Homo sapiens: one gene and its partners. The protein of the gene in region 1 interacts with the protein of each later gene in a pairwise test. Each region holds a gene or a part of one and is shown in the gene's direction. Other genes may lie near its edges.

Region 1 (5,739 bases):
ACTTGTATATCGCTATTGAATATGCCCCCTACGGGAACCTGCTAGATTTTCTGCGGAAAAGCCGGGTCCTAGAGACTGACCCAGCTTTTGCTCGAGAGCATGGGACAGCCTCTACCCTTAGCTCCCGGCAGCTGCTGCGTTTCGCCAGTGATGCGGCCAATGGCATGCAGTACCTGAGTGAGAAGCAGGTGTGTGTGAGTGGGGGCGGGTGGAGGCCAGAGGGGGAAGCCACTGGGCTGGTGTCAGTGGAAGAAGTCAGCCGGCCCTGATTGTATCTGGGGATTGAGGTTCCTGGCCCAAGTGTGTGGGTGGGTGCAAGCACAGCGAGGAGGCAGGGCCAAGGGGCAGGTCTGGAGGAGGTGGGGACTTCCAGTATGGAGGGTGCGGGTGTTGAGTGAGCAGGTCTAGATGCTAGCCTGGAACTCAGGAGAGAGGCCCAGGCTGGAGACAGCATCTGTGTGTGAGCTGTCACCCCACAGATGGTGCCTAATGGCAATGGGCCTGGTGCGATCTGCCGGAGAGGGGGAAGGGCAGAGATCCAAGCCCAAGTCAACTCAGGCCTGAATGAGAGGACAGGGGGATGACTGTCCAGGGGAGTGTGAGTCTGAGGGAAGGCATTTTATCTTTTTTTTTTTTTGAGACTGAGTCTCACTTTTTTGCCCAGGCTGGAGTGCAGTGGTGCGATTTCAGCTCACTACAACCTCTGCCTCCTGGGTTCAAGCAATTCTCCTGCCTCAGCCTCCTGAGTAGCTGGGATTACAGGCATGTACCACCACACCCAGCTAATTTTTGTATTTTTAGTAGAGACGAGGTTTCACCATGCTGGCCAGGCTGGTCTCGAACTCCTGTCCTCGAGTGATCCACCCGCCTCAGCCTCCCAAAGTGCTGGGATTACAGGCATGAGCCACTGCACCTGGCCAGCATTTTAAAGATAGTAAAGTTTTGAGTATGTTTGAAAGCAGAGGGGCAGGGGAAGGGGCCAGTGCAGAGGGAGGGGCTGGTGGAGAGAGGTCTCTGGGGAAGCTGGAGGGCTAAGGGAGAGAAACTGGAACCCAGGGGATGGGAAGAGGGAGGGGGAGAAGCATGGAAAGAGGAGAAGGTGCAGTATGGCCACCACTGTCTCAGGAAAAGGGATCCAGCCTGAACTTGGTCAGGGCCCAGGAACGAGCGGGTGAGAGCCAACACTGATCTTTCTCAGATATGAGTCAGCTGACGAGATTGCAGCCAGGAGGGTAGGAGTATGGGGTATTGAAGGTAACAAGGGTACCCACGAAGACTGACTCCTTACTGGCCTGACTGTCCTGGGCTCCCTCATCCCCAGTCTCTCCTGACTTCTGACCCTGCCTACAGTTCATCCACAGGGACCTGGCTGCCCGGAATGTGCTGGTCGGAGAGAACCTAGCCTCCAAGATTGCAGACTTCGGCCTTTCTCGGGGAGAGGAGGTTTATGTGAAGAAGACGATGGTGAGTCTCATTCAACCCTCACCCTTAGGGCTTGTGCCTGGCCCTGCCCCACAGGAGCCTCAAACAGGCCCTTCCTCCACACTCAGCCCCTCAAACCCATTCTCTCCTAGGGGCGTCTCCCTGTGCGCTGGATGGCCATTGAGTCCCTGAACTACAGTGTCTATACCACCAAGAGTGATGTGTGAGTGTGAGATGAGAGGGCACAGGAGGGCTTGGCCCCCAAGAATCACCCAGGCCTGACCTAGACATATCTCAGAAATGTCATAGGTGGTCTAAGGCATGACCTGGGCTGTGTTCCAGGTGTGACACAGGTGTGTCTTGGGTATAAAGTACCTAGCCAAGGTGGGGCTTGCTGGAAGGAGTCTTGGAAGGTGTTTCAGGAATAGGACTGGGGTAAAGGTAGTTTCGGATTATGTTTGTGTAAGTGACGGGGGATGCCTTGGAGAGGTTTGGGAATGCTGGCGGATGCTTCCTGAGGTAGATGGAGAGGCCACTCAGGAATTGCTCTCATCTTCCTCCCTGAAGGGCAAGGTCATGCCCACCTGAGGATCTTACCAGAGCATGACCCCCAAGACTCCCTCTCTGTGCCCCCTCCCCTGCAGACAGCCCTCTTGGCACACTCCTCCTGTCTCTCCAGGGATGTCCATCTTGATCTGAACCTACCCCTTGCCCCAAGCCCTTTGGCCTTGCCTGCATGGCTCACTGCTTACCACACTGATCACTCCTCTGACCACTACATGCCTACTTCGTGCTTCTGCCCCAACACTCCCTTGATTCCCTCCACCCCCTTTGAACTCTCTCCCCTGGTCTCAGGGCTGATGCACACTACACAGAGGCTGTTAAAGTGTGAGATGCAGTCAAGAGTAAGAGCTTTGGAGCCTGAGTTGGAACGCTTGCTCTGCCACTAACTAGCTGTATGGCCTTGGGCAATCTAGCTAACCTCTCAGTGCCTCAGTGTCTTCATCTGTAAAATGGCAAGACTAATAGAACCTGTATCATAGGGTTGGTGTGAGGGTTAAATGAATTAACATGTCTGTTAAATGACCAGGGCCTGGACCACGGTAAGTGCTCAATAAAAATGTTAGCTCGGCTGGCTGTGGTGGCCCACATGTGTAATCCCAGCACTTTGGGAGGCCAGGCAGGCAAATCACTGGAGACCAGGAGTTTGAGACCAGCCTGGGCAAGATGGCAAGACCCTGTCTCTACTAAAAATACAAAACATGGCCGGGCGTGGTGGCTCACGCCTGTAATCCCAGCACTTTGGGAGGCCAAGGCGGGCAGATCACAAGGTCAGGAGATCGAGACCATCCTGGCTGACACAGTGAAACCCCATCTCTACTAAAAATACAAAAAGAAATTAGCCGGGCATGGTGGCGGGCACCTGTAGTCCCAGCTACTTGGGAGGCTGAGGCAGGAGAATGGCGTGAACCCAGGAGGCAGAGCTTGCAGTGAGCCGAGATCTCGCCACTGCACTCCAGCCTGGGCGACAGAGCGAGACTCTGTCTCAAAAAATAAATAAATAAATAAATAAATAAATAAATAAAAATACAAAACATTAGCTGAGCATGGTGGCACACACCAGCTACAAGGGAGACTGAGGTGGGAGGACCACCTGATCCTGGGAGGTTGAGGCTGCAGTAAGCCACTGCACTCCAGCCTGGGTGACAGAGTGAGACCCTGTCTCAAAAAAAAAAAAAAAAAAAAAACAAAACAAAAGAGCTCTAATTGTGCTGAGCCCAGGGATGGGGGCAGTATGAAGGAGCTTCATTGGCGCAGAGACAACAGCTGGCCAAGGCCAGATACTTACAGAGTAGACACATACAGCGGGGCTGGGAGGCACTGCACATCTTGGGCAGGTAGAAGCTAAACTGCTAGGGACCAGGGCCTAGAAGGTAACTAAGTGCATCCTTCTTATTTCAGCTGGTCCTTTGGAGTCCTTCTTTGGGAGATAGTGAGCCTTGGTGAGTTCCTGATCCCCGTCCCCCAGAGTGCCCCACCTTACCCCACGTGGAGCCCTGGACCGAGAGCACTTTGTCCCCTCCTGCAGGAGGTACACCCTACTGTGGCATGACCTGTGCCGAGCTCTATGAAAAGCTGCCCCAGGGCTACCGCATGGAGCAGCCTCGAAACTGTGACGATGAAGTGTGAGTCACCCCATCCTTGAGCTCCATGATCCTATCTCTGTGATGAGTGACCTCAGCTTTGATCCCTGTGACCCCATCACCCCAGCTGGCCTGACTCCTCATCTCAGCAATGCCCCCTCGCAGGTACGAGCTGATGCGTCAGTGCTGGCGGGACCGTCCCTATGAGCGACCCCCCTTTGCCCAGATTGCGCTACAGCTAGGCCGCATGCTGGAAGCCAGGAAGGTGAGGAGACTGGGGCTGAGGTGGCGGGCTGGGCTCACAGAGTGCTCCAGAGTGCCCTCTCAGAGGTGCCATGACCCCTGTCCCAACCACACTGCCTGCCCAACCTCCCTCAGTGGGGGCTGTCACCACGGCTAGGCTGGGCCCCAGGATGCAGCCTGCCTTTCCAGCCCTCACTGGTTTAGACACCAGGCCCTTCCAAAACTCTTCCAAGGCCACTGCTTAGCCCCAACAGCAAATCCCTACCTTAAGCCCCAAGTCCCAGACTGCTTGCCTGTCCTCTGCTGAGGCCATCAGCCTGTCCTCATCTGGGACACCTCTCCCCACCTGCCAGAGCCAGAGCAGAGTGCATGAATAGTCACTAACCAGATGGATGGATGGGTGAATGAGTGATACAGTAACCGTATGAATGAATGAATGGAATTAGTGGATAGATGATACAATAATCATATGAACATGTAATTCAATAACTCAATCTACTAACCATGTGAATAAGTGAATTATCAAATAAATATAATGAAAAATATATCAAAATTAGTAAATATGAAGAGTTCTTCAAGTAAATTAATGATTAAATAACCATCTTAAGAATGAAGGAATGATCAAATAACCATATAAATGGATGAGTCGTCTAAAATGGCTTTTGAACAGATAAGTTACTGAATGAATGAACGCATAAGCCAAGAATTCATTGAAAGAGTGCATGTAAAAACCCTCCTCTAACAATGGCATTGAGAGCCTCTCACCTGAGGCCCCAACTGTGGCCTGATGCCTTCACTGCCCTGGGCTGGTAAAGGCCACTCTTGGCCATGGGGCCATCTTAGGTCTCCAGAACAAATCAGTGTCAGTTCAAATGCCCCCACCACATGGAAGTCCAGGAGCTTGAGGCCAGATGCACCCCCATTCCTGGCCCCCACTAAAGCTTGCTCTGCCCCCAGGCCTATGTGAACATGTCGCTGTTTGAGAACTTCACTTACGCGGGCATTGATGCCACAGCTGAGGAGGCCTGAGCTGCCATCCAGCCAGAACGTGGCTCTGCTGGCCGGAGCAAACTCTGCTGTCTAACCTGTGACCAGTCTGACCCTTACAGCCTCTGACTTAAGCTGCCTCAAGGAATTTTTTTAACTTAAGGGAGAAAAAAAGGGATCTGGGGATGGGGTGGGCTTAGGGGAACTGGGTTCCCATGCTTTGTAGGTGTCTCATAGCTATCCTGGGCATCCTTCTTTCTAGTTCAGCTGCCCCACAGGTGTGTTTCCCATCCCACTGCTCCCCCAACACAAACCCCCACTCCAGCTCCTTCGCTTAAGCCAGCACTCACACCACTAACATGCCCTGTTCAGCTACTCCCACTCCCGGCCTGTCATTCAGAAAAAAATAAATGTTCTAATAAGCTCCATTCAATGTCTACCTTTTACTGCTGGTCAATCTTGGGGTGAGGGGCGTAGTTAAACCCAAGAGACAGAAACTGGCCGGGCGTGGTGGCTCACTCCTGTAATCCCAGCACTTTGGGAGGCCGAGGCGGGTGGATCACGAGGTCAGGAGCTTGAGACCATCCTGGCGAACATGGTGAAACCCCGTCTCTACTAAAAATGCAAAAAATTAGCTGGAAGTGGTGGCGGGCACCTGTAGTCCCAGCTACTCGGGAGGCTGAGGCAGGAGAATGGCCTGAACCTGGGAGGCGGAGCTTGCAGTGAGCCAAGATCGCACCACTGCACTCCAGCCTGGGCGACAGAGCGAGACTCCGTCTCAAAAAAAAAGAGACAGAAACTGGGCTTTCTAGGAAAAGAAACACTGTCTGAGGCCTCAGCCCTCTGTTGAGGTTGCCTGTCCAGGATAGGAGGTGCTCTGGAAGACTCATTTTACACAAACACCACCAGCCCCTACCTCTGTCCTGATTAGAAGGCCAGTTTT
Region 2 (7,112 bases), on another chromosome or scaffold:
TAGATAGATTGGATGGATGGATGGATGGATGGATGGATTGGGATGGACTGGGATGGACTGGGATGGATGGAGTAAATACTCATAGTAGATACCTTTTCACGAATGCTCAGTAAACTGTAGCTGTGGTTAAGGACTTGGCCTTAGTCATTTGTCCGAGAGCCTGTAGGCTCTGTCATGGCACTAGGCAGCTGCGTAAAAGGCCAGGCCTCCATCCCGACCTGTGTATTCTTGCCTGGGTTGAGCCAGCTCGGTTTGTGTGAGTATTCTTGTACCCCCTTCCAGAAAGGACTAGCTAAAAGACACCTGCTCTGAGTTGGCCATCAGCAGGGCATCGGGGGAGTTGGGAGCCGGTAGGAACTGCAGCTCTGGGTGCTGTGAAGAGGGCCCTGAGCCGCATCCAACTAAGGAAGTGAAATGTTGCTGAGCTCCCACCCTCCTAGGCAGAGGTCTGAGCCGCTGGGATGTGGACAGGTGACCTCTGAAGCGTTGTTCAGCTCCGCCACCATCCAGTTTGAGGGTTGCTTGGTCCCATGTTCTCTCCAGTCCTGTAGTGGGAGAGCAGAGGGGGTGGAGCTTGGATCCCTCTGTTTGCTGCTCAGGGCAAAAGACTTTGGGCTCTTGTTGAAGCTGGTTAAGTTACCTGTGTTCTTAGACTGACTGGAAGGCTTTTCCTCCCTTCTCAGTATGTGGGCACAGGTCCTTACTCCCGGTGACATGATGCACTGTAGGTGTCCCCTGCAGCCAGCTAATCCATGGTGGTATTTGTGAACACCTTCCTGCTTAGCATGGCCCTTTGCTCTCAACCCCAGGAGCTGAATGGTCACTTTGTAGCCCTTCCTTTGACAAAGGCCTCACGTAGGAAGACTCCTTTGTAGCCAGTGTGCTCACTCTTGAAAAATCCCAGAGTCTGCAGAAGATGGCTGCTTGCTGAGAGATGCTTCTGTCCCCTGGGATCACACACCCTGCTGCTGTCTGTGCTGCCTAATCCATCCGACAGCTGCTGCAAGTGCGGTTCTTGGCCGGTGTTACCTACTGAGACATGGGGGAAGTAAAGGGAAGTGACAAGCCCAGGGGACCTGGAATCCTTGAGGGGAGCCAGTCAGTAACTCCATCCCATTGGTCATGTTTCCCTTGCCAGTGTTACTCTTTGGCTCTTGGGGAGTGGTTTTGGGGCCTGAGAAACTTCCCCATGCTCCCAGCCCCAGCTGTGCCTCAACCTAGTCAGCATCCCTTCCATTCCCTCAACATTCTGGTTTTTAGCTGTTGTTTTCCCACAAGCTGCTAGAACTGGAAAAGATTCTACCCTGCAGCTTGAACAATAGACGAGATTTGTGGAGCTAGGATGCATCTCAGGGTTGTGCCGGCTGAAGGCCTGGTGTGACCTGGAGGGGGCACAGGGCAGGCTGCTCCTGGGGAGCTGTCTCTTTGATTTACAGACTGCCTGAGCCCAAGTTTCTCCATCTAGAAACAAGGAAGCCCTGCTCTGTCGGGCCCTAGGGGCTTCCGTCAGGTGACAGACCATATCCCGTTCTCATCCCTAATGCTGCCATCACGCACCTTCTAGAGTTTAGCAGGAATGATGAATGTGACAAGTCTGTATGTTGTAGGGGGTTCCGATTTATGGCAGCCTTAACATAGAAAACCATCTGTTTTCCCTGGTCCCAAGGTGGTTCTGTTTCAGGACAAATGTGTAATCATTCTTGGTTTTAAAAATCTCTTCTCAGCCGGGCGCACTGGCTCACGCCTGTAATCCCAGCACTTTGGGAGGCTGAGGCAGGCGGATCACCAGAGATCAGGAGTTCAAGACCAGCCTGGCCAACATGGTGAAACCCTATCTCTACTAAAAATAGACACAAAAAAATTAGCCGGGCATGGTGGCGGGCGTCTGTAATCCCAGCTACTTGGGATTACAGTTGGGAGGCTGAGGAGAATTGCTTGAACCCAGGAGGCAGAGGTTGCAGTGAGCTGAGATCACGCCACTGCACTCCAGCCTGGGCGACAAGAGCAGGGAAAAACAAAAACAGAAACCTCTTCTCACACTGTCTAGCTGTGATACCTCAAGCAGGTGTCTTCACCTGTCTTACAGATGGGGATGGTTAAGGATTGCCAGAGTTGCAGTGCCTGGCTGGCTGCACTCCAGTGGCAGCTGCTTGGGGATAAGACTAGCACGGTGACCAGTCGGGCTGTCACCTCAGACTAGGAGCCCTTGACATCAGCCAGCTGGGGGAGCCAAGGGCAGTGAACATTTTTCTCCACCCCCAATCCCTGCTCTTCATTCCTGTTTCTGGATCCCTACTGGAGTACCTCCTGCTGTTTTTGGATGAAAGAATAAAGGGTCAAGCATCAAAGATGATGTCCTGGGGACTGGGACCTGGGGTAGCAGGTGGAAGGGCCTTGTTTGATGTCTCCCTATTGCCTCCCCGACCCACACTGGCTGGACTACTGCCCAGGACAGAAGAGGGGGGTTGGCTGTGAGTGGGGAGGAGGTGGAAGCGGTAGATTCCCAGCACAACCTTCTTCCTCCCACCCCCAAAACCTCCATCTGAAGAAGGCCTGAGGAAGCTGTCAGGCTGCCTGCCTGATTCATCCCTTCCCTCTGGGCATAGCCACTGAGTCTGCTGGGCTGATGCTTCTGAATACAAACTATGGCACCTGGAAGGCACTGCAGAGAAAGGGGGGACCTCAGGGCTCCCATTCCATCACTCTTGAGTCTAGGTCATACCCTCCACAATCCCCAAGAGGCCCGTACTGTCTCTTCTGATGGGACTCCTGGGTTCTGTGTTGCCCACCCTGCAAATCTGCATGCCAGCAAGTATGGGTGACCCGGCTGGCTGCTGGGTCACCTTCATTTGGGTGCTAGCCTTGCTGCCTTCCTTTGGTGCTGTTGAGATTGTCCTTGCCGTGTTCACTCCCAGCGCAGGCATGCCCTGGCCCCAGGCTGTGGCTCCGATTCACTCTTACTGCCATGCTTTGTTCTCATTTTTTGCTTCCACAGTAAGTCTGCACAAAATACTGTCCTCACAGCTGAGCTTACCTGGTGATCTATTCTTTTTTCTCGGTCACTACTTGTCCAGCTTTTTTTTTTAGACTTTTGGAGACAGTGATTGACAACAGAACCTAGCAGCCAGGGCTGCGCTAGTCCCCTAGCCCCCTCCAGAGCCTGTGTCAGGCATATGACTGACTGCATCCTCTCCCCTCTCTCTCCTCTCTGCCCCAGATCAGTGGACCATCCCCTGCCCGGATCCTCTCTCTCCACAGACTATGGCAGCTGGCAGATGGTAACGGGCTGTGGCAGTATTCAGGAGCGGGCTGTCCTGCACACAGACTCCTCTCTCCCTTTCAGCTTCCCGGATGAGCTCCCTAACAGTTGTCTGTAAGTGTCTTGCTTGAGAAGGCAGGATGCTCCCCTGCCCATGGGAAAAGCTGGTGAGCAGTCAGGAGTGCTGGGTAGGAATGAGGCTGGCGCTCAGGAGCTGGCCTGGCCTCCTGCCCTCCCCTCTCTCAGCTGCTGGACCCGAGGTATGAAGGAGGCCTGTGGCTGGTCAGGAAGTGCACTGGTTTGTGTGTTCACTCTGCAGCCTCTAAAACCCATCCACTGGTGTCTCAGGTGCACCCAAAGGGAAAGCTGCTGGACTGTAACTATAGAAGATTCTATTTCTGTATAAGCCTTTGCCTGACATGAGAATCGTTTGAAGGCAGAACAGTGGGATAGTGAAGGTAGGTGTATGGTGGAGGCCAGAGCCAGAGTGGTGCTGGGTTAGCCCGAAGCTTTGCTCCTGAGCAGAACCTAGGGTTACTTGCTGTCTCTACCCGCCTTGTCTTCTGTTTTTGCCTCTGGGCAGGAATAAGAATTGGATGGGGATTCTAGATCCCACACCTACAAAACCCTGAGTTTCCAGCCCTTAACAGTGTGTCCACCTGACTGGAGCAGCTGCCTCTGGGGAAACCACCTGCCCCTGGCCTGTTCTGCCGCTTCATGGATGTCAGGCAGGAGAAAGCCTCTGGTGGCCAGGGGAGCAAGCCCTGCTCCTCAGCTGTGGTGCCTGAGGGCCTCTCAGCAAGCCTTCCATACCATGGGCTGGATGAATGGCACATGCTGGGGCCTTACCACCAGCACCGCAATCCAGCTCATCCCCCCACCCCTGTTGGCAGGTGGGAGGCAGGGTGCCTTGGGGAGTTGGGAAGGGAAAGGGGGCCCTGGATCCTAGCTGAGGGCAGTCAGGAGCCAGTCAGACCTTGAAATTCCAGGATGGCACAGGTCCTGGCTCTGCAGCTGTGAAGTCATCAAAGAGCTTCTGAGGTCACTGTGCCTGGCACAGCCTCCTCTGCAGCCAGCCCCTAGGCTAGAAACAAGATCTTAGATGTTCGAAGGCTTAAAAAAAAAAAAATTGCAGGCCGGGCATGGTGGCTCACGCCTGTAGTCCCAGCACTTAGGGAGGCCGAGGCGGGCGGATCACCTAAGGTTGGGAGTTCGAGACCAACCTGACCAACATGGAGAAACCCCGTCTCTACTAAAAATACAAAATTAGCTGGGCGAGGTGGTGAATGCCTATTAGTAATCCCAGCTACTCGGGAGGCTGAGGCAGGAGAATCGTTTGAACCTGGGAAGCGGAGGTTGCCGTGAGTCGAGATCATGCCATTGCACTCCAGCCTGGGCAACAAGAGCGAAACTCTCTCAAAAAAAAAAAAAAAAAATTGCACCTTTCTGTAAAGACTTCCTACTCCAGCCCCATTTGCCCAAGAGCCATCTCTGAAGGAAGCACAGATATCCCTGCTTGATAGCACTCCTCACTTACCTGGGGTTAGCCACTGAAACAGGCAACTCCAGCCCCAGATCACCCACCCTAGAACCTACAATTTAGGCCCCAGGCAGCACTCTAAGCTGCTAGCCAAGCCTTTAGTTCTGGGAGGTTCTCAGAGGAGGGCTGGATTCCGTATGATCTGAAGGCCTGCAAGACTGTGGGATGTGGTCAGAGTTGATTCCTGTGAAGCCGTGCAGCATGTGGGTTCAGCACTTGGGCTTTGTTATCAGAAAAACTTAAGGCCAAATCCTAGCTGCTCTATTCACCAGCTGTATCTTCAAGTGTCAGCCTTGCCTTTTCTGAGCCTGTTAGCTCATCTCTCAAGAAGGAATGGCACTGTAGTACCTCCCTTGCCTGGTGTGTGTCCTTAAATGGGTCACATAACCTCTCCTCTTTTCTCATCTCTCAGTAGGTGGTGGTCTCTGTCCCTTTCACCTCTCAGAAATGGGCAGCCATGTCAGGGGGGTGGGGCAGGGCAGTGAGAATGCTCATGTATGGATCTTTGGATGTTCCCTGTGAGTGTAAACTCTTGGTCTGTTTCTCCCTCGTATGCTATAAGGAGAAGCTAAGGCAAGCATGCATGGCCTTTGGCCTGTGTGAAATTAGAAAGTAAAAAGATCTCAGGCCATGCTTCTTCCCCAGTTGCCAGGAGAGACTTCAGGATTGTTGATGGTAGTACAGGAATCCAGTCTCAGCTCCATGTTCTTAGTGCTGCTGCAGGAGTGATTTGACTTTTCTTTGCCCCAGAGCCTACTGCTTCCATCTCTCACATTTCACTCCCACCGATCTGCTTTCCCTAGAGTCCTGTCTATCTCCCCCCATACTTACCTCAGGACTGTCATTTATCCTCAGACATCCCTCTGCTCCCACAAGCCCTGGGTACAAGTCATTGAGCCGTTGGGATTGGGTTCACTTCAGCTGCCTCTGACAGATTTCCAGGGAGGGACTGTCCAGGGATTGGTTTCTTGAGGGCAGATTTGGAGCAAGATTAGTAGGCATGGATGGTCTTAGTATTTAGGTGTATGGGAATGTGAGGGCTCTTCTCATGTAAGTCTGTGACCCCTAGAGAGGGCCCTCCAGGGACCCATTGGGGGAACACTATGTGAGTACCTGAACTTTGAGTCCAGAGTCCATGGGCCTCTTCTATTAAAGGCCCTTGGGGATGTCACACAGCCTCATGTGGAGTCATGCTTTGATAAGCCTGAGTTGTGCGCACTTGTTTCCCTTCTTGACTTGTAATTTCAGGGTAAGGAAAGAAGAGGGGCTTTCATCTGTGATCAGAGCCTACAGAGGCCAAGAGAGGAATGGGGAATAGAATCAGAACACAGATCTTTCTGGAAAAGCCAGCACCCTTTCAGCTGTTTACCTGGAAACCACAGTGACTGAAGGTGTAGCTAAAGCCCTAGAGGTTTCCAGTGGGGAACCCTGGCTTCAACCCAGCAGACAGTGGGTTCTTCCAGGGCAATAGCTTCCTCCTAAGATGCGTCATGTCTAGGCCTCAAGGCTGGGGCCTTTTTTTTCTTTTCTTTTTTTTTTTTTTTTAGACACAGTCTCACTCTGTTGCCCAGGCTGGAGTGCAGTGGTGCAGTCTGGCTCACTGTGACCTCTGCCTCCCGGGATCAAGTGATTCTCCTGCCTTCAGCCTCCCAAGTAGCTGGGATTACAGGCATATGCCACCATGTCCAGTGAATTTTTATATTTTCAGTAGAGACAGGGTTTTGCCATGTTGGCCAAGCTAGTCTCGAACTCCTGACCTGCCTCGGCCTCCCAAAGTGCTGGGATTACAGCCAAGGCTGAGGACTTTCAACAGCTGCAGCGTGCTGCCAGATTTCAGGGGCCTCCTTACTGTTAGGTATAAGACTTCATGCCTCAGCTTGCTCTTCCTGAGGAGTGGAAGCAGAGAGCTGCTGGGGCAAATTCCCTCCTGCTTAGCTACCCTCCTTCCCAGTGATCGCAAAGATAGTTATTTTCACAACAGGTCAGGTCAGGCCAGGCACAGTTGCTCACGCCTGTAATCCCAGTACTGTGGGACGCCAAGGCAGGCGGATCAGTTGAGTCCAGGAGTTTGAGACCAGCCTGGGCAACATGGTAAAACCCTATCATGGTGGCATGTGCCTGTAGTCCCAGCTACTTGAGGGGCTGAGGTGGGAGGATGGCTTGAGGCTACAGTGAGCGCTGATTGTGTCACTGCATTCCAGCCTGGGCAATAGAGTGAGACCTTGTCTCAAGAAAAAAAAAAAAAAGGTTAGTGTCCCAGTAAAAGCTCCTGCTCTAGGTGGGAACAGTAGCCTGAGGGCTTAGAGGAATGGT
Region 3 (7,112 bases), on another chromosome or scaffold:
GAAATCACATATAGGGGGACAAAGTAGGATGGAATTTGGAAGGGGCCCAGCAGTTGCACATTCCAGGTAAGGAACCCAGGGTGAGCCAGCCAGTCAACTGATTATGGAGGGACTGGGAGGGGTACCAGGGGCTGTGACTCCCACTGATGTGTCTGTTCATGACCCAACACTGCTGCTCAATTGACACTTGAGAAAGTCTGTGCTTCCCTAAAACAGAGCAGGTGGCCTCACAGTCTTTGAGCCCTTAGATCATCATGCATCTATCTTGTGACACATGCATCAGCTACTGGCTTTCAAGGACTCTGGTGGGTTGACAGGTGGGAGATGCCAACTCTGATTGAAGGATGCCTGTGGAGGAATCAAAGGTGCCACACAGGACAATCTTCTCTCTGTTATCCACACAGTGAAGCTGCCCAAGCCCTACATCACCATCAACAACTCAAAACCCAGGGAGAATAAGGATGTCTTAGCCTTCACCTGTGAACCTAAGAGTGAGAACTACACCTACATTTGGTGGCTAAATGGTCAGAGCCTCCCGGTCAGTCCCAGGGTAAAGCGACCCATTGAAAACAGGATCCTCATTCTACCCAGTGTCACGAGAAATGAAACAGGACCCTATGAATGTGAAATACGGGACCGAGATGGTGGCATGCGCAGTGACCCAGTCACCCTGAATGTCCTCTGTGAGTATCTTTTGTTCCTCTGTGGGCCAGGACACCAGCTTAAATCTAAATGACCACAAGCCAGTCCTCTCAGTCTTTCTCCGGTCCAAGTATAGACACCTTTATTTCTGGACATCTGAGCTGGCCATGACTCCCTGCCCTTGGAAAACCTAGGTAGGCACAGCCTTAACCAGGAATATAAGGGGAGGGGGCGCTCTTGTCATGGGAGACTTTGTGTCAATAGCTTGTGATGGGAGAAACAGGTGAATACCTCAGGCTTTGGCTCAGTGAATATAGTGGGGGTTCGGCTGGGACTTGAGGGTGTGTCTTGGCTCAGAGGGTCACTGTGTCCCTTTAAGAGACCAGGAGCATCCCCTTCCCTTGGATGACATCACCTGTGGCTTCATTCTCTTTGCTCCAGATGGTCCAGACCTCCCCAGCATTTACCCTTCATTCACCTATTACCGTTCAGGAGAAAACCTCTACTTGTCCTGCTTCGCGGAATCTAACCCACCGGCAGAGTATTTTTGGACAATTAATGGGAAGTTTCAGCAATCAGGACAAAAGCTCTCTATCCCCCAAATTACTACAAAGCATAGAGGGCTCTATACTTGCTCTGTTCGTAACTCAGCTACTGGCAAGGAAAGCTCCAAATCCATGACAGTCGAAGTCTCTGGTAAGTGGATCCCAGCATCCTTGGCAATAGGGTTTTAGGTGGAGTCTACCTGGCTTTCAGAGAAGAGTTAGGAAAACATTTTTATTCCCAGCCTGTGTCCCATGGGCACAAGCAAATCCCAAATTCTCCTCCTGAACCCTTCCAATTTGTCTCTACAAACTCTCTTCTCCTTGTTTTTCTGTTTTCTCATGGCTGACCTTGTGTCTGGCCTAAGAAAGTTAGGGAGGGGGCTTTATCAGCCCTGAGCCCTATGTGGTAGAGGAGGCTTCACAGAGGGATGAGAAGGAGAGTCCTCAAGATCAAGTTGCTTCTCGATGTCACCAACACATCCCCTTCTGCCATGTCTTTGTTTCCTTGTACCTATTCCATGAGCTACAAGGAACATCTGAGGCTCTGAAACAAGCTCACACTTTTCCCCCAAATGAGACGAGGAAGCCCCTTGGGTGAGGGAGGAGCAGCTCAGACTCTGCTTCCTGCTCTGCTCCATGCTTCTCTGGTGACTGGGCCTGCCTCACTCAACCTGGGGTGGGACCAGCATGTGTGGAGAAAGAGTCCTGGTGGCCTGTCCTGAATTTGGCTAAATCGAGCTGCCAGTTGAAGCCAAGCCTCCCCCGGGCCAGGCTGCAGGGAAATAAGAAGAGAGGGAGCCTCAGGGAAGACTCCTGCGTTGCGTCCTGGCTCTGAAGTCACCGGTTGTATGAGGTTGTGGGCACAGCATGTGGGACACAGCACGGAGGATAGTGACTGATGCAGAGCTGGAGAAATAGAGAGATTCACCCCTGGGGCTCTGCATGGCAGGAAAGGGGCAGTGCCAAAAAGTGTGTAATTATAGAGAGGGTAAGACTACCAGACACTTTATATATATCTAATATAAGACTTACCATTAACTATTTCTATGTGTGCAATTTAGTGTTGTGTAACCATCACACTATCCATTTCCAGAACTTTTTCCTCTTACCATATTAAACCTCTGTACCCAATAAACAGTAACTCACTCCTTCTCCCCATAACCCTTAGCACACACCATTCTACATTCTGTCTCTATGTAACTGGCTATTCTAACTATCTTTTATAAATGGAATTATATGATAATTATCCTTTTGTGTCTGGTTTATTTCAGTTAGCATAATATCTTTAAGGTTCATCCATTTTGCACGATGTATTGGAATTTTATTCCTTGTTAAGGTTGAATAACATTTTAATTGTAGATACACCTCATTTGCCTACCCACTTATCTTTCAATGGACTTTTCAGTTGTTTCCATTTTTTCGCTAGTGTGAGTAATGCTTCTCTGAACATCAGTGTACAAATATTTGTTCAATTTTTTTTCATTTCTATGGGGAGTTTGTCCAGAAGTGGAATTGCTGGATCAAATGGTAAGTTATTGTTTAATTTTTTGAGAAACAGCCACACCACTTTTTACAGTGGCTATAACATTTCCCATTCCCATCAGCAATGCACTAGAGCTCCAATTTTTCCATCTACTTGAAAACACCTGTTGTTTTGTGTTGCTGTCATTTTTGTTGTTTATCAAAGCCATCCTAAAGTGTGTGAGGTGGTGTAACATTGTGGTTTTGATTTGCATATCTCTAAGTATTCGTGATGCTGAGGAACTTTGCATGGGCTTATTGGATATTTGTATATCTTCCTTGGAGAAAACTCCATTTTAATCCTTTGTTCATTTTTTAATTGGGTTTTTGGATGTTTGCTGTTGTTGACTTGTAGCTTTTCATGTATTCTGGAAATTAATTTCTTATCACACATATAATTTGCAAATATTTTTATCATTTCATAGGTTGCCTTTTTACTTTCTTGATAATGTTCTTTGATATATAAAAGGTTTTGATTTTTGTGAAGTCCAATTAATCCATTTTATTTGTTGCCTATGCTTTTGTTGTTACAACCAAGAAATCATTGTGAAATCCAGTATCATGAAGCTTTTCTTCTAAGAGTTCTGTAGTTTTTACTCTTACATTTAGATCTTTGATCTATTGTGGGTTAATTTTTATGCATGGTGTTAGGTAAAGGTTCCACTCTCTTGCCCTTGGATATCCAGCTTTCCCAATATCATTTGGTGAGAACACTGTCCGTTCCCCATTGAATGATCTTGGAACACTCCATGAAAATCATTTGGCCATATATGCAAGCATTTCTTTCTGGGCTATGATATTTCATTAATTTCTATGTCCTCCTTTATGCCAGTACCACACTGTATTGATTACTAGGGCTTTGTAGTAAATGCTGAAATCAGGAAGTGTGAGTCCTCCAGCTTCATTCTTCCTCTTCAAAGCTATGTGTCTATTTAGAGTCATGAGATGCAATATAAATTTTAGGACAGATTTGTCTTTTTCTGCAAAAATGTCACTGAGATTCTGACAGGAATTTTATTGAATCTGCAGCTCACTTTGGGCAGCACTGTCCTCCTAACAATATTGAGTCTTCCAATTCATGAACACAAAATGTCTTTCAATTTATTGATGTCTTCTTTCATTTCTTTCAGCAATATTTTGTAGATTTCAGGTATAATTATTTCACCTCTTTGGTTAAACTTATTCCTAAATATTTTATTCTTTTTGATGTTAATATAAATTGAAATTATTTTTCTTAATTTCCCTTCAGATTGTTCATGTTTAGTGTATTGAAATACAACTGATGTTTGAATGTTGATTTTGTATTGTGCAACATTACTGAATTTATTAATTTTAATTGGTTTGTTCCACCTTTAGGATTTTCTACATATAAGTTCAAGTTATCTGTAAACAGAAAGAATTTTACTCCTTCCTTCCAATTTGAATGTCTTTTTTTCAATTCTTGCCTAATTTTTCTGACTAGACCTTTCAATACTATGTTGAATAAAAGTGTCAAAAGCAGGCATCCTTGTCTTGTTCCTGCTCATACAGGGAAAGCTTTCAGTCTTTCTCCGTTGAGTATGATGCTAGCATTGGGTTTTTCACATATTGCCTTTATGTTGAGGTGGTTTCCTTCTATTCTTAGGATGTTTTCATTATGAAAAAATATTGAATTTCATCAAATGCTTTTATTGATTCAATCTTATTACTGATTATAGTTCTATTCATATTTTTGTGTGTTTCTAGGAGTTTGTCTATTTCATCTAGGTTATCCAATTTATTTGCATAAAATTATTTATAGTACTTTCATAATCATTATTTTATTAGAATTGGTAGTAATCGCTTCATTTTTCTTTCTTTCTTTTTCTTTTTTTTTTTTTTTGAAGAGAGGGACGGGCTCTCACTATGTAGACCAGTCCAGGATGGAATACAGTGGTGTGATTATGGCTCACTGCAGCCTTAACCTCCTGGGCTCAAGCAATTCTCCTTCTTCAGCCTCCCAAGATGCTATGACTACAGGTTCATGTCAACATGCCCAGTTAATTGGTTTTTTATATTTTTGTAGAGACAGCATCTCCCCAGGTTACCCATGCTGGTCCAAACACCTGGTCTCAAGAAATCCTTCTGCTGTGACCTCCCAAAGTGCTAGGATTAAAACATGACCCACCATGCTCAGAGTCCATTTTCATTTCTGATTTGAGTAATTTTAAACTTTTCTCTTTTTTTCTTAGTCAATCTAGTTAATGGTTGTCAATTTTGTTGATTTTATTTTGAAGAATCAACTTTTGGTTTCATTAATTTCCTCTATTCTTTTTCCATTCTCCATTTTATTTATGTCCACTCTAATCCTTATTATTTCCCTCATTCACTGTGCTTGGGTTTAGTTTGTTCTTCTTTCATATCCTGAAGTATTAAAGTAGGTTGTTGACCTGAGATCTTTCTTCTTTTTTAATGTAAGAGTTTACAGTTATAAATTTCTTGCACAAGACTCAACTTCTCTGAACCTCTGATTCCTCACCTGAAAATTGCAATGAGAGTGCTTTCTTCATACCATTCTTTTAAATGTTTAATGCAATCAATGAAACAAGATGCCACACAGAGGAGCCAATGTCAGCTGCTATATTACTACCATCATCATTAGCCTTGAGGTCAAATAGTCCTAGAATCAAATTTCAGATCCACCTGTCACTAGCCATATGACACCAGGAAAGTTTTTACACCATGATAAGCTTCTGTCTTTTCATCAGCAAAGTGGAAATAATTTCTACCTGACAGGGTTATTGTGTGGATTAAATGAGATACAGGTAAAGTATTTAGCACAGGGCCTGGCACATAGGAAATGCCCCTCAACAGTACCTACCTTTTTCCATATATATGGAAAAAGAGGTAACACATAAAACACTAGGACATGGTTACTGACTACTTGTGGGAGAGAAGGAAAAAAAGCTAAGTGCAAAGAATCAAGCCTGATATGTTAGTTTTTACCAACTGAGATGCACCCAAGATGGGATTAGACATACAAGATAATTTATCAGGGAGGACACCTGTGAGGGAATGTGGGGCAGACATGAAGGCAGTATGGGAGAACCCACAGACCACTATGCAGAGCTGATTCCTGTGAAAAAGAAAGAGAAAGAAGTTTTAGGTACCAATGCAGTTCTAAGAGTTTTTGCAAGGCTGAGGGGGAGTCCTCCAACCAGTCACCCTTTAGAGTTAAAGAGAGCCTCAGAGAACTAGGCTTGCTTTCACGCCCTTCCTGGGAGCCTGTGGGAAAGAAGCTTTCTGTGCAAAGGAGGTGATGAATGTGAAATGCACGGACGTGGGCCTTCTGTCAATCAGCTCCCTGCCATGGAGACCTGACAGAGTCTCATTCATGGCTGCCACAACAGAGAGACTGAGAAAAAGATGCAACCATGAAAAGGTGAAAAGGTGGTAAGTTCTAATGACATAGAAAATAGCAATCAGCCTTTCTTATGTCTGAAAGCCTTCCAAAATATCTGAGTGCAGTAGAGATTTGACAGAGGACTGATCACCATCCTAGAAACATGGTGAGAGGGAAAAAAAAAACTGCAAGAATATAATCATCTCCCATCAATTTCCCAAGAGGAATAATGTAGTACTTGAAGAAACAATTATAGAGTACCTCATGCTACATGCCTCTTCCTGAGGCTCCCCCATGTAAAATAACATCACCTTCATTCCTTCTTTACTTTTCTTTCCATGACAGCTCCTTCAGGAATAGGACGTCTTCCTCTCCTTAATCCAATATAGCAGCCGTGAAGTCATTTCTGTATTTCAGGAAGACTGGCAGGTATGATGGCCTTTTCTCTTATCCTGGTTCCTGCAGGGCTGACTGCCATGCTTGGGAGAGGGAAAAGACTTATTTGCTTGTATCTGGGACTGCATCTCCTCCTTCCTCCACTAAACTCCTGCTTCTCAGAACTAATTCCTGCAGTTCCCTTTCTCCCTGGCCTTTATGCTCCCTGTACCCCACTGTCTTTTAGACATAATTATCTCCAGCCTCTGCTCATTTGTTTCTCAGATTCAAATGAGAAACACAATTTCACATGGTGAAACCCTCTTCATTATTTTTAACATCTCTCAATAGTGTAATTCTCTACACTCCCATAAAGCTCAACCACTTCTCAAAGTATTGCTTGACTTCTTGTGGCCAGACTTTGAAACCTTCCTTGCATATGACTGCCTCATTACCTTTCTAAAATCTAGTTAATTCACTTAATCAAGAATCTGCAGGGGTCTACTCTAGCCTATTTGATAAGTTCACATTTCTTCTATTTAGTAAGCCTTCTCACTTCCTTTACCTCTACTTCCTAGTATAATTCCTTCATCCTAATTAGAACTGTCTTCCTACACATCCCTGCCCCTTCACCCATATAGACATAAAATTCTTAGTTCCAATGCTAT

What was found.
Region 2: the proteins of TIE1 (region 1) and MTMR14 interact in a two-hybrid assay, tested with the Homo sapiens proteins (one study listed by BioGRID and IntAct).
Region 3: the proteins of TIE1 (region 1) and PSG5 interact in binary tests that used the Homo sapiens proteins (3 or more experiments, as listed by UniProt).

What each region holds. Positions count from the first base shown.
Region 1 is NC_000001.11:43,317,885-43,323,623, forward strand, and holds the end of TIE1 (tyrosine-protein kinase receptor Tie-1 isoform 1 precursor), read left to right. Parts: coding exon 1-188; intron 189-1,350; coding exon 1,351-1,464; intron 1,465-1,574; coding exon 1,575-1,645; intron 1,646-3,384; coding exon 3,385-3,425; intron 3,426-3,511; coding exon 3,512-3,608; intron 3,609-3,731; coding exon 3,732-3,831; intron 3,832-4,766; coding exon 4,767-4,838; 3' UTR 4,839-5,224; downstream 5,225-5,739. UniProt on the Homo sapiens protein: Transmembrane tyrosine-protein kinase that may modulate TEK/TIE2 activity and contribute to the regulation of angiogenesis.
Region 2 is NC_000003.12:9,694,494-9,701,605, forward strand, and holds part of MTMR14 (phosphatidylinositol-3,5-bisphosphate 3-phosphatase MTMR14), read left to right. Parts: exon of another isoform or gene 1-1,032; intron 1,033-3,217; coding exon 3,218-3,373; exon of another isoform or gene 3,374-3,717; intron 3,718-3,842; exon of another isoform or gene 3,843-5,999; intron 6,000-7,112. UniProt on the Homo sapiens protein: Lipid phosphatase that specifically dephosphorylates the D-3 position of phosphatidylinositol 3-phosphate and phosphatidylinositol 3,5-bisphosphate, generating phosphatidylinositol and phosphatidylinositol 5-phosphate.
Region 3 is NC_000019.10:43,169,441-43,176,552, reverse strand, and holds part of PSG5 (pregnancy-specific beta-1-glycoprotein 5 precursor), read left to right. Parts: intron 1-404; coding exon 405-683; intron 684-1,083; coding exon 1,084-1,338; intron 1,339-4,997; exon of another isoform or gene 4,998-6,414; coding exon 6,415-6,458; 3' UTR 6,459-6,498; exon of another isoform or gene 6,499-6,548; intron 6,549-7,112.